Linked DNA regions of Homo sapiens: region 1 is linked to region 2. The links come from fine-mapping of genetic effects on gene expression. A gene starts in region 2. The other region holds a variant in brackets. All regions are shown on one strand. Distances are between the middles of the regions. Region 1 has its middle 7.9 kb from the start of TBC1D1. Region 2 holds the start of PGM2 (phosphoglucomutase 2).

Region 1 (5,383 bases), 57 kb before region 2:
CAACGGTAAATCAATGCAGTGAGAGAATGGGTGGACTGTATACTTAAGCCCCAGAGTAGGCTTCTGTGAAGTATCTAATCTCCTTTTATGGACAAAGCAGATAAAACTCTGGGCACTGGTTCCACTTCCTTTTCCAGCAACCTCTCCTATTTGTCATTGCTCTACACAAGCAACTGCTCCACGCAGCTCTCTGACGATGTCCAGCCTTTACTTGGGGTTCTCACTTTCCACCCGAGCTGGTTCCGTGGGTCTGGGCACCAAGTACAAAGTTTGGCAAATGTTAGATGGCACGTCATTTTTAAATTATGATATCTAAATTTGTCTAAGGTCAATGAGAATTTTTTTGTAAATTGTCAGAGCTAGTTATGGATGTCGATGATTTTACTCAGACTGGGTAAGCTGACTAAGCTCTCTACCCTGCAGCAACCCCACTTCATTTTACCCCAAATGCCATTGGTGGTACCTAATGTGTAATCTCACCTAGAATGCAGGAGCTGCTAACTGGTTTCCCTGATTCGGCCCTCACCACCCTGCAGTCTATTCTTAACATAGCAGCCACTTGAATCTGCTAAAATATCATTTGGGCCATGTCACTGCTTGGCTTGGAATCCTCCCATGGCTTTCCAGATTCCCTGGAGTAAAAGTCAAAGTCCTTATAATGGTTTAGAGGGTCCTACAGGATCTTCTTTCTCAACTGCCACACCACTACCTCTGTCCTTTATCACCTGCTACCAGCCTTGACTCACTCTGCTCCAGCCACACTGGCCTTGCAGTTATGCAGAGCTGCCAGGCACACTCCTGCCCCAGGGCCTTTGCATTTACTCTTCCCTTTGCTAAGTGTACTCTTCCCTCAGATATTCACATTGGCCCCTCACTTACTTCACTTTGTTTAAATGTCACCTTCTCCATGAGGCCTTGCTGACCAAGTTTTTGAAAATGGAAACCACAGCTACGCCTACACACACACACACACACACACACACACACACACACACACCTTATCCCTTTTCCTGCTTTATATTTCTCCATAGCATTTACCTTCTAATGTACTATATTGGTTACTTGTATATCTTATTTGTCATTTGTTTCCCCCTCCGCCTTCCATGGGAGCAGAGAATTTTGTCTGTTTTATTTGCTGCTGTATCTTCAACTCACAGCATGGAGCCCAACACATAGTAGGCATCCAATGAATATGTGCTGAGTGAATGAATGAATGAAAAAAATAATTTGTAATATATAACATTTTTGAGTTCAATACATGTCTTTATATAGAAAGAGAGGAAAACCTAGAAATTCTAATCTAATAGAAGTACTATCTATTAGATTAGAATTTCTAGGTTTTCCTCTTGCTTAGAAATTCTAATCTAATAGAAATACTATTAGATTAGAAGTACTATCTATAGAAGTACTATCTATTAGATTAGAATAGAATCTAATAGAAGTACTATTAGATTAGAATAGAATCTAATAGAAGCGCTATCTATTAGATTAGAATTTCTATGTTTTCCTCTTGCCTAGAAATTCCAATCTAATAGAAATACTATCTATTAGATTAGAAGTACTATCTATAGAAGTACTATCTATTAGATTAGAATAGAATCTAATAGAAGTACTATCTATTAGATTAGAATAGAATCTAATAGAAGTACTATCTATTAGATTAGAATAGAATCTAATAGAAGTACTATCTATTAGATTAGAATAGAATCTAATAGAAGTACTATCTATTAGATTAGAATAGAATCTAATAGAAGTACTATCTATTAGATTAGAATAGAATCTAATAGAAGTACTATCTATTAGATTAGAATAGAATCTAATAGAAGTACTATCTATTAGATTAGAATAGAATCTAATAGAAGTACTATCTATTAGATTAGAATAGAATCTAATAGAAGTACTATCTATTAGATTAGAATAGAATCTAATAGAAGTACTATCTATTAGATTAGAATAGAATCTAATAGAAGTACTATCTATTAGATTAGAATTTCTATGTTTTCCTCTTGCCTAGAAATTCCAATCTAATAGAAATACTATCTATTAGATTAGAAGTACTATCTATAGAAGTACTATCCATTAGATTAGAATTTCTAGGTTTTCCTCTTGTTGACAGCTCATTAGATTTCTCAACTGTCCTAAGAGGTATGTCAATAGTTCCCCCCAAGGTGAGCTAAATGTTGAAGCATGTGACTCCTTCTTTAACCATCAACATAGACTCTAATTTCAGATATACTATAGAAGGACTTTAGAATCAGGAACAACTGAGAACTCATCAGCAGTCAAAGTTTGTTAGAAGTTTGGTTGAGAAAAATATGACCTTGGAGACCAGCATGAAAGATAATGCAGTTCAACTGGTCCTCTAAAATCTGGATCCCCTAAAATCAGTTCCTTATCAGATCAACCCAAGTGAAGATCCATTTGCCTGGAGTGTATCCAGAAAA[T/A]TTTTTTTTACTGAGTTTCACTTTGATATTATTCCATTGGTCCATAGTGGGGGAATGCATTTTATAAAAATACTCTATTCAGTCTGAAGATATTATTGAGGGTGTTTATTAATACCTTACACAGTGTCCTTTTAAAGAGAATCCAAGAAAAAGTTTCTCCTAGGACTCCACTAAGAAAAACTTTTCTTTCCTTGAGCAACTGATTTTATCTCCATCCTTGCACTGACCGTTTGGGGTTCACTGCTTGGCAGGCATCCAGGACATTTTGTGTGCTAAGTCAGTGATTCACAAATGCCCTTTCCAAGCCATTGCCAGTTTGTGCCACTTTTCATCTATCCAAGACAAACTATAAATAACAATGTGTAACTTCATAAAAGCAAACTGAACTTCTCTGTCTTCTGAGATCATGTTCTTCCTACCTTATAGGTACTAACAAATAAGTATTTCTTTTATGAAATTACGGTGAGAACCATATGGTGAGATCCATTGCTTTGTGCTTGTTTTATAATGTCTTTACTTGGCAAAAGAACATTATAGCGCCCCCTTGTCAATTCCTAGTGTTTGGAGAAATGTTACTGGTTCAGAAAATCCAAAGTCTAGGAGCAGTGGTTTCTACCTAATTCCTAGCATCATTCTATCTCACCTACTACCCTCTCCTTTCGTCCTGTTTTCTTAATTCACTTTGAATCATTTTTTGTTTACAAAAAAAGTGAATACATTTAAGCCATCTTCAATCATTCCTGGGATGTGGTAGAAATATGAGTGAGTGAGTGAATGAATGAATGAATAAACAGACTTGTACAGGCAGAGAACATACCAACTCGCCTGCAGCTCCACACTACATCAAATGTTCTCACTCATTACCACCTTGTATGCTACCTGTATAGTGTGTACAGTGTGTTGTAATTTACAGATCTCATATTATTTAACCCTCTCAGCAGCCCTCAGAGGTAAACGTTATTTCTCTCCCTCATTATAGAGAGTTGGAGTTGTCCTAAGGCAGAAAACCTGTGGGGGAGAAATTGGGGTTTTAACCTGGATATTCTGTCAGCAAGCCTAATTCTTTTTGTCTATACCATATTACTGCCTTTCAAACTAATGTTTTTGAGGGTGATCATGTTTGGAGGTGTTTTGATTTGTGTGGGGGAAATGAGAGTCTGGTTATTTCCTTGGCTTTCAGAATAACATTCCTTATTGCGAGGTGTTCCTGGTTGGGCTGCGCTTCAGCTGGGGCTCTCTGACCCTTTAACTTCTCGGGAGCATCCACAGAACCAAGGTTTCCTTGATCAGCACACATTGAAGAAACGTGCTCCGGGGCAGTCTCTTTTTGCTCACTTTTCTATTGCATAATAATTCATATTGTGCCACAGCATTATAGTGGGAGGTTGCTTCATTACTTTGTAATTTCTTTTAACATTAAAGCTGAGCTAGAGACATTCAGCCTTCTCATTTTCTTGTTGGTAAATATGAAATGTAGGATGAAGTTCTCCTTTACTCAAAAGAGTGTGGGTCCTTGGATAGGAAGCTTAGAGAAATCATTAAGGGGGAGGTAGAATTTACCAAGATTTCCAAAGTGGCAGGTAGTTACCGCAAAGGGGTTAGTAGTCTTTCAACCAGTAGAGATGCATAGATGAGCTATTCTTTCCATGGCTCTGAACTAGGCACTGAAGTGATGCAAAGAAATATGAGACAGCTTCCTTGTCTTCAGCATCCTTACTCTCTTCTAATTCAGGGTTGACAAACTACTAAAAGCCCATTTAGTAAATATTTTAGGCATTGCAGGACATTCCATCTCTGTCCCACCTTTCAAATCTGTAGCAGTGGCCGGGAACAGTGGCTCACACCTGTAATCCCAGCACTTTGGGAGGCCACGGTGGGCGGATCACGAGGTCAGGAGTTTGAGACCAGCCTGGCCAATATGGCGAAACCCCGTGTCTACTAAAAATACAAAAATTAGCCGGGCATGGTGGCGCATGCCTGTAGTCCCAGCTACTCAAGAGGCTGAGGCAGAAGAATTGCTTGAATCCGGGAGGCAGAGGTTGCAGTGAGCCGAGATTGCGCCACTGCACTCCAGCCTGGGCGACAGGGTGAGACTCCGTCTCAAGAAAAAAAAAAAAAAAAAAAGTCTGTTGCAGTGCAAAAGCAGCCACAAACGCTATGCAGACAAATGAGTATGGCTGTGTTCTAGTGAGTATGGACGCTGAAATTTGGATTTCATGCATTTTCACATTGTCACGAAATATTCTTTAAAAAAATTTTTCCAACCATTTAAAAATGTAAAATCCATTCTTAGCTCATGGGTCATACAAAAACAAGTAGCCGGATTTGGCGAGCAGGACATAATTTGCTAACCCTGCTCTAGGGCAAAGGTTTTTAACTATTTTTATAGTATAGATCCCTTTGCCTGTGTAATGAAGCCTATGGAACCTTCCTCAGAATAATATTTGTAAATGCCTAAAATAAAATAAATAAAATACATTAATAATGAAGTTCATATGTTATGATATCATGCTTTTAAAAATATATGTTGATATCTGTATTTCCATGTAATTGGCTACAAATTATATGGAAGGCTGGGTACAGACATTCAGCCTTCTTCTCATTCTTTTGTTGCTAAATATAAAATGTAGGATGACATTCTCCTTTAAGAGAAGTTCTCCTTTAAGTAACCAATTATATAGCCAATTATATAAAATTCTCCTTTAAGTAACCAATTATATGGAAATACAGACATCAACATATACTTTTAAAAGCATAATATTGTAATATATGGACATCATTATTAATGTATTAAATAACAAGATTTGCCCACAGGTATAATAACTACCATGATTTTGAGAGTGATAAAAATATATGATATTCTGAGATACTTGTTACAACTGAAATGTGACATGAAAATCAATGATTTCTATTGATGACAATGTCATGGGGAGTGATAA
Region 2 (5,383 bases):
CCTGTTTTACAGTCATTATCCATTTAGATGAGCACTCACGCAGGACGTGGCCATTTAATTAAACTTTGAAATACTACTGCAATAAAACCTTGGCTTTCTGGAATTAAGCCCACATTTCCAGATTGTGGCAGATTCAATGGGAATCAAGTAAACCCCATCTTTTTTGGTGAAAAACAGCAGATGCTAATTACAGAACACAGTCTTACCTATCAGATTGTCAGGTGCCCCAAAGAAAGGCTCAGATCAGGTACATAAAAGAGGCTCATAAAAGAGCCTCAATAAATATTAGTGGAGTGAATCAGAAAACATGGACTTCACTGCCACACTCAATATCGAGTGATCCTCCCTTGTTCATAGTGTAGGTCTGGAAAATCTTAATTGGTCTTTGATATCTATGAAAGACTAAGTAGCCTGAGAGAAACAAAGGAGACAGACAGGTAAGAATGACAAGTCAAGAGTACAGCAGGATCAGAATCAGCCCTGGCAGTGAGCAAAACTGACAGCAGAGAAAAGAGCAGGGATGAAGGCACGGTGGAAAGACAGAGGGCACCTGCCAGGGCGCCTTGCCAGTCGCCGGGGGTAGTCTGACTAGAGGGCTGCAATGCTTTTAGCTGGTGGGAGGTTCACTGGAGAATGAATGGGCTTCTTCTCAGGTGCCAGTCTCAAAGCAAAGAAGAAATTAACAGAGGATAGAACATGAGAAGTGATTAAAAAAAAAAAAGGACATCTCATCTCTACCCAGAGAAATACAATTTTTCTATACACAGATGCAACACTGTGTAGAAATTAGATTGTTTTCTTCTTCTTCTTAGAGAAAGTGCATTATGAACTCTGACTTCAAAAGAATTCTGTACTCTGCAAGCTACAAGTTATCAGAAATGGAAACATTTTTCTTCCCTTGTGAATCACAAGGTTATCTTCCCAGGAAAAGAAAAACGCCCCCAAGGAGTTGCCAATAGCATCCTGGAAATGGGATTTGCTGACATTTTATTTGTAGGGGCCAGAGAATGGTAAATAAAGACAAAGACCTGACCCCTACTGACCTTGTAATCTTCTTTGTTCATTCAAGTATTTCAGTGACCTACTATGTGTCATGCACTATGCCTATGCCAGGCACTACAAACCAAGGTAGTGAGAATAGAGAGGCCTGGCCACATAATTTATGGAGGTCCAGTGCACAATGAAAGTGGGTGACCTCTTGTTTTACCAGTAAGACTTTCAAGACAGGACAGCAGGACATTAAAACAACAGTGGGCCCTTCAAGGAGCGCGAGTCCTGTGAGACTGCAGGGGTCTCTCGCCCCTGAAGTCGGCCCTGGAGACAGACATTAAACAAACCTACAAACAAGTGTTTTTGGAGTTTTTTGTTTTTACCATTTGTAGTAAGAGCTATAAAGGAAAATAACAGACTGTTTAGAGTGAATATTAGGGATAAATAATTTAACGCTTCGGAGCCAAGGAAGGACTGACTCTCTACGTAAGCCACATTTAAGTTCAGGCACAAAATATGAGTCACAACGGGAGAAACAAGTTCAGCAGGAGAGCAGCGAGGGACATTCCGAGAAAACCTAACAGCAAGCAGAACAGGTCGAAAGGGCGAGACGCAAGTTTATAGAGAGGAGAGGGAGTGATGTCCAGAGCTGGGTTCCTGATTCTAAGAAACGGAATGAAGAGAGAGAAAACCGTGCTGTGTCCCAGGTGTGCCTCCCTGGCAGTCAAAGTTCTAAGGGGGACTCCTGAAGCCAGGCGGGCCCACCCGGGAGGACAACCCACGTTTGTAACCAAGCCCTCGGGATGGGAGGACCGGACCAGAACGCTGCTCTGCAAAGGTCTCAGCGGCCAAAGGAATACGCGGGACGGAGCGATTCTGGGTCCATGGGGATGCACAGCCGACTACCGACGACGAGCCAGCGGTCTGAGTGACAGTAAGGCGTGCGCCCCTCAACTAGACAGCGTCCAGGGTCTGGCCGCGCTTACACCACCCTGGCTCGCTCCTCTACTCCGAACTTGCAGTCCGGCCGGCCGGATGGCTGGTTTCGTCCGGGGACAAGCCTTCCCGGCCTAACTCTGAACGTGCCGCATGCCGGCCAGGTCGAAGGAAGCCTAGCAGCGGCCGTACGCTCCTGGGTCTTCCCGGGGGAGAAGCGGGATGCACTGGGCGGGAAGGCAGCTCAGGCAGAGCAAGCAGCGCCGCGCCTGGAGAGGGCAGAGCACCCGGCCCCGCTCCAGGCGCTCCCCGCCTGCTGGTGCCCCTCACCTTGTCCCAGCGCAGCCACTGGGCGGTCTCCTGGTCCAGCCGGGCGTCCTCGCCTAGACCGCTGCCTTCTGGAGCCGCCATCGCTGAGCTTGTGCTACCGCTGCAGAGGGAAGCAGGCGGTGAGATCTGCCTTCCGGCCCGGCCCCAAGACGTGGAGGCGGAGGCGGGGGCGGGGAGAGCCGCGGCGGAGCCAGTCGGTCCGGGGGAAAGTGACGCGCGCCGCGGCGGGCACGCCTCCTTGCCGTTTGCGGGTGCGCTGCAGGGGGTGGGAGTGAGCGAGGAGGAATTGCGGGGCTAGGGTGGGTTGCTGGAACCTGGCACGTGTGAGAAGGGTTTGCCATCGTCTCTGATGCATCCAGGCTACAGCCAGCCGTGAGTTCCTGCTGCGCGCCAGGCACATGTCAGATGCTGGGATACCAGGAAGTGCACCCAGATAGGGGCCTGAAGACTATGTAGAAACTCAGAGGGTCAAGAACAGCCAGAAAAAAATCTTGAAAAAGAAAAGCAAAGTAGGAAGACCAGTGGAACATAAGATAGAGACCAGAAACAAAAATACACGTGTATGGACAATTTATTTCAGAGGCGGGGCTGCAGAGCACAGGAAGGAACTATTTTTGGTTAATGGTGCTCGGTCAAAGGGATATCCACGTAGGGAAAAGAAAAAAGGGAACTTGGCCCCCTACCTCCCATCACACACAGCTCTGAACTCCAGATCAATTGTATCTCTAAGTGCGAAAGGTAGTGTAGCAGGAGGAGCCGCAGACAAAACTCCTCAGACACCGGATTAAAGAAGGAAGAGGTTTTTATTCGGCCGGGAGCGTCGGCAGACTCGCGTCTTAAGAGCCGAGCTCCCTGAAAAAGAAATTCCTAGCCATTTTAAGGGCTTACAACGCTAAGGGGTCTGTCTACGTGAAAGGGTCATGATAGATCAAGTAAGCGTGAGGAACGTGACTGGGGGCTACATACATCAGCTAACAGAACAAGAAGTTTTACAGTGCTTTCTCATACGATGTCTGGAATTTACGGATAACGCCAGTAGTTTTGGTCAGGGGTTAATATTATTATTATTATTTTAACCACCAGGGCCAGGTGGTGGCGCCAAGGTCGTCTAGCTATTTATCTTACTTCTGTTTTTTTCCAACTTTTTGCTTTCTCTCTTTTCTCCTGTCTTATAAACTAGGGAAAAGGGGAGGTGGGGGAGAAGCTGGGAAGGACAGCAGAAATGGTGGTCTCTTTCCATAGTAGCGTGAAACTTAGGGAAACTAACATAGGAGCACATCTTCCTGACGCTGGTATCACCAAGCCATAAAGAAGATGCATACCCATAAGCATAAAAAAGCACGGGCAAGAATATTTCTAGCAGCATTATTTGTAAAAGCCTCAAACTGGAAACAACCCAGATGACCATCGACAATACAATGGATAAATACTTGGTAGTATATCCATACCAATTCATATAAATAAATCATGGCACATTGATAGAGCAATGCAGGTGAACTACTGTTATACACAACATCATGAATGAATCTCACAAACACTGAGTGACAGAGTTCAAACACCCACCCCCATACCCCGTCACCCCAAAATACTGCATCATTCATCTGTAGTCCCAGCTATTTCGTGGTGGGGGAGCTGGAGGGAGTCCTGAGGAGGGAGGATCGCTTGAGCCTGGGAGGTCGAGGCTGCAGTGAGCCCTGATTGTGCCACTGTTCTCCAGCCTGGGAGACAGAGGGAGACCCTGAAAAAAAAAAAAAAAAAAACACTGAAATATATAAAATTATAGGTAAAGGAAACAAATCAGTGATTTTCAAGAGCTGGGGGTTGGGGGAGGGGTTGACTACCTAGGGCACAAGGGAATTTGAGGGAGTTGTGGAACTGTTCCGTATCTTGATTGAGTTTGGGGTTTACTTTTATCAAAACTTATAGAACTGTACGATATAAAGGGTAAAATTCACTGTATGTAAGTTATATCTCTTTTTTTTAAGTTTTAAGATTAAAAACTAAAAAGGAGGCAAAACTAACCTATGGATGTCAGCAGAGTGGTAGCTTTGGGAAGGAGGGAAAGTGCCTTCTGGGGTTCCGGGACTGTTCTGTTTCTTGACCTGGACGATGGTCAACAGGTGTGTTGACTTTGTAATATTCACTAAGCTGCAATCTTATGAGTTGTGCATTTTCCGTATGTTCTTCAACTTTATTTTATTATTATTTTTTGAGACACAGTGTCGCTCTGTCACCCAGGCTGGAGTGCAGTGGTGTGATCTCGGCTCACTGTAACCTCTGCCTCCTGGGTTCAAGAGATTCTCATGCCTCAGCCTCCTGAGTAGCTGGGATTACAGGGGCGTGCCACCATGCCCGGCTTATTTATTTATTTATTTATTTGAGACACAGTCTTGCTCTGTCACCCAGGCTGGAGTGCAATGGTGGGATCTCAGCTCACTGCAACCTCCATCTCCTGGGTTCAAGTGATTATCCTGCCTCAGCCTCCTGAGTAGCTGGGATTATATGTGTGAGCCACCAGGCCCAGACTTTTTTTTTTTTTTTTTGTATTTTTAGTAGAGAACGGATTTCGCCATGTTGGCCAGGCTGGTCATGAACTCCTGACCTCAAGTGATCTGCCCACTTCAGCCTCCCAAAGTGTTGGGATTACAGGGATGAGCCACCGCGCCCGGCTAGTGTGTTCTTCAATTTTAAAAAGAAAAAATATATATCCAGGATCTGTAATATCTGTTTAGTGTCATGGGAAAGGCATACTAATCATGTAATCACGGCAGTTAATACGTAATTACAAACTGATAAAATGCTGGAAGGAAAGCAGAGAGATGTCATGAGGCTGCAGGTTAACAGAGGCCACCTCAGTCAGGAAGCTTGCCTGAGCACTGGAAGCTTAAGAGAGATGTGAGGGAAGGATGTAGTTAATGTGAGAGTGTGGTCCTTCCCCTGACTGCAAAACCTGAGAGGCTGGAGCACAGAGAAGAAGAGAAGGACAGTCTGCCTCAGTTTCCCCAAATGTTAGGTGGTCTGCAGGTCCACCACACTCAGGCTATCTCTTTTCTCTGCACCAGATAAACCTTCTTCTCAGTCATGCTCTGGAAAAAATTGCAGGACATGGAGAATCACAGACCCAGGC

What was found. PIP is the estimated chance that this variant, and not a neighbour inherited with it, causes the effect.
Region 1: its variant is the best candidate, but not a certain one, in a credible set for the expression of PGM2 in whole blood (TOPMed, PIP 0.86).

Annotation. Positions count from the first base shown.
Region 1 is chr4:37,880,447-37,885,829 of GRCh38, reverse strand. No RefSeq gene overlaps it. Among named protein-coding and RNA genes, the nearest start is that of TBC1D1, 7.9 kb to the left of the region's middle. RefSeq lists an enhancer at 4,042-4,542. The variant T/A (reference allele first, on the strand shown) is at 2,445.
Region 2 is chr4:37,823,687-37,829,069 of GRCh38, reverse strand. PGM2 (phosphoglucomutase 2) reads right to left here and starts at 2,384. Exons shown (of 14, transcript NM_018290.4): 1 at 2,257-2,384. The coding sequence starts at 2,337. RefSeq lists enhancers at 1,712-2,211, 2,212-2,713, 3,746-3,915 and a silencer at 2,202-2,501.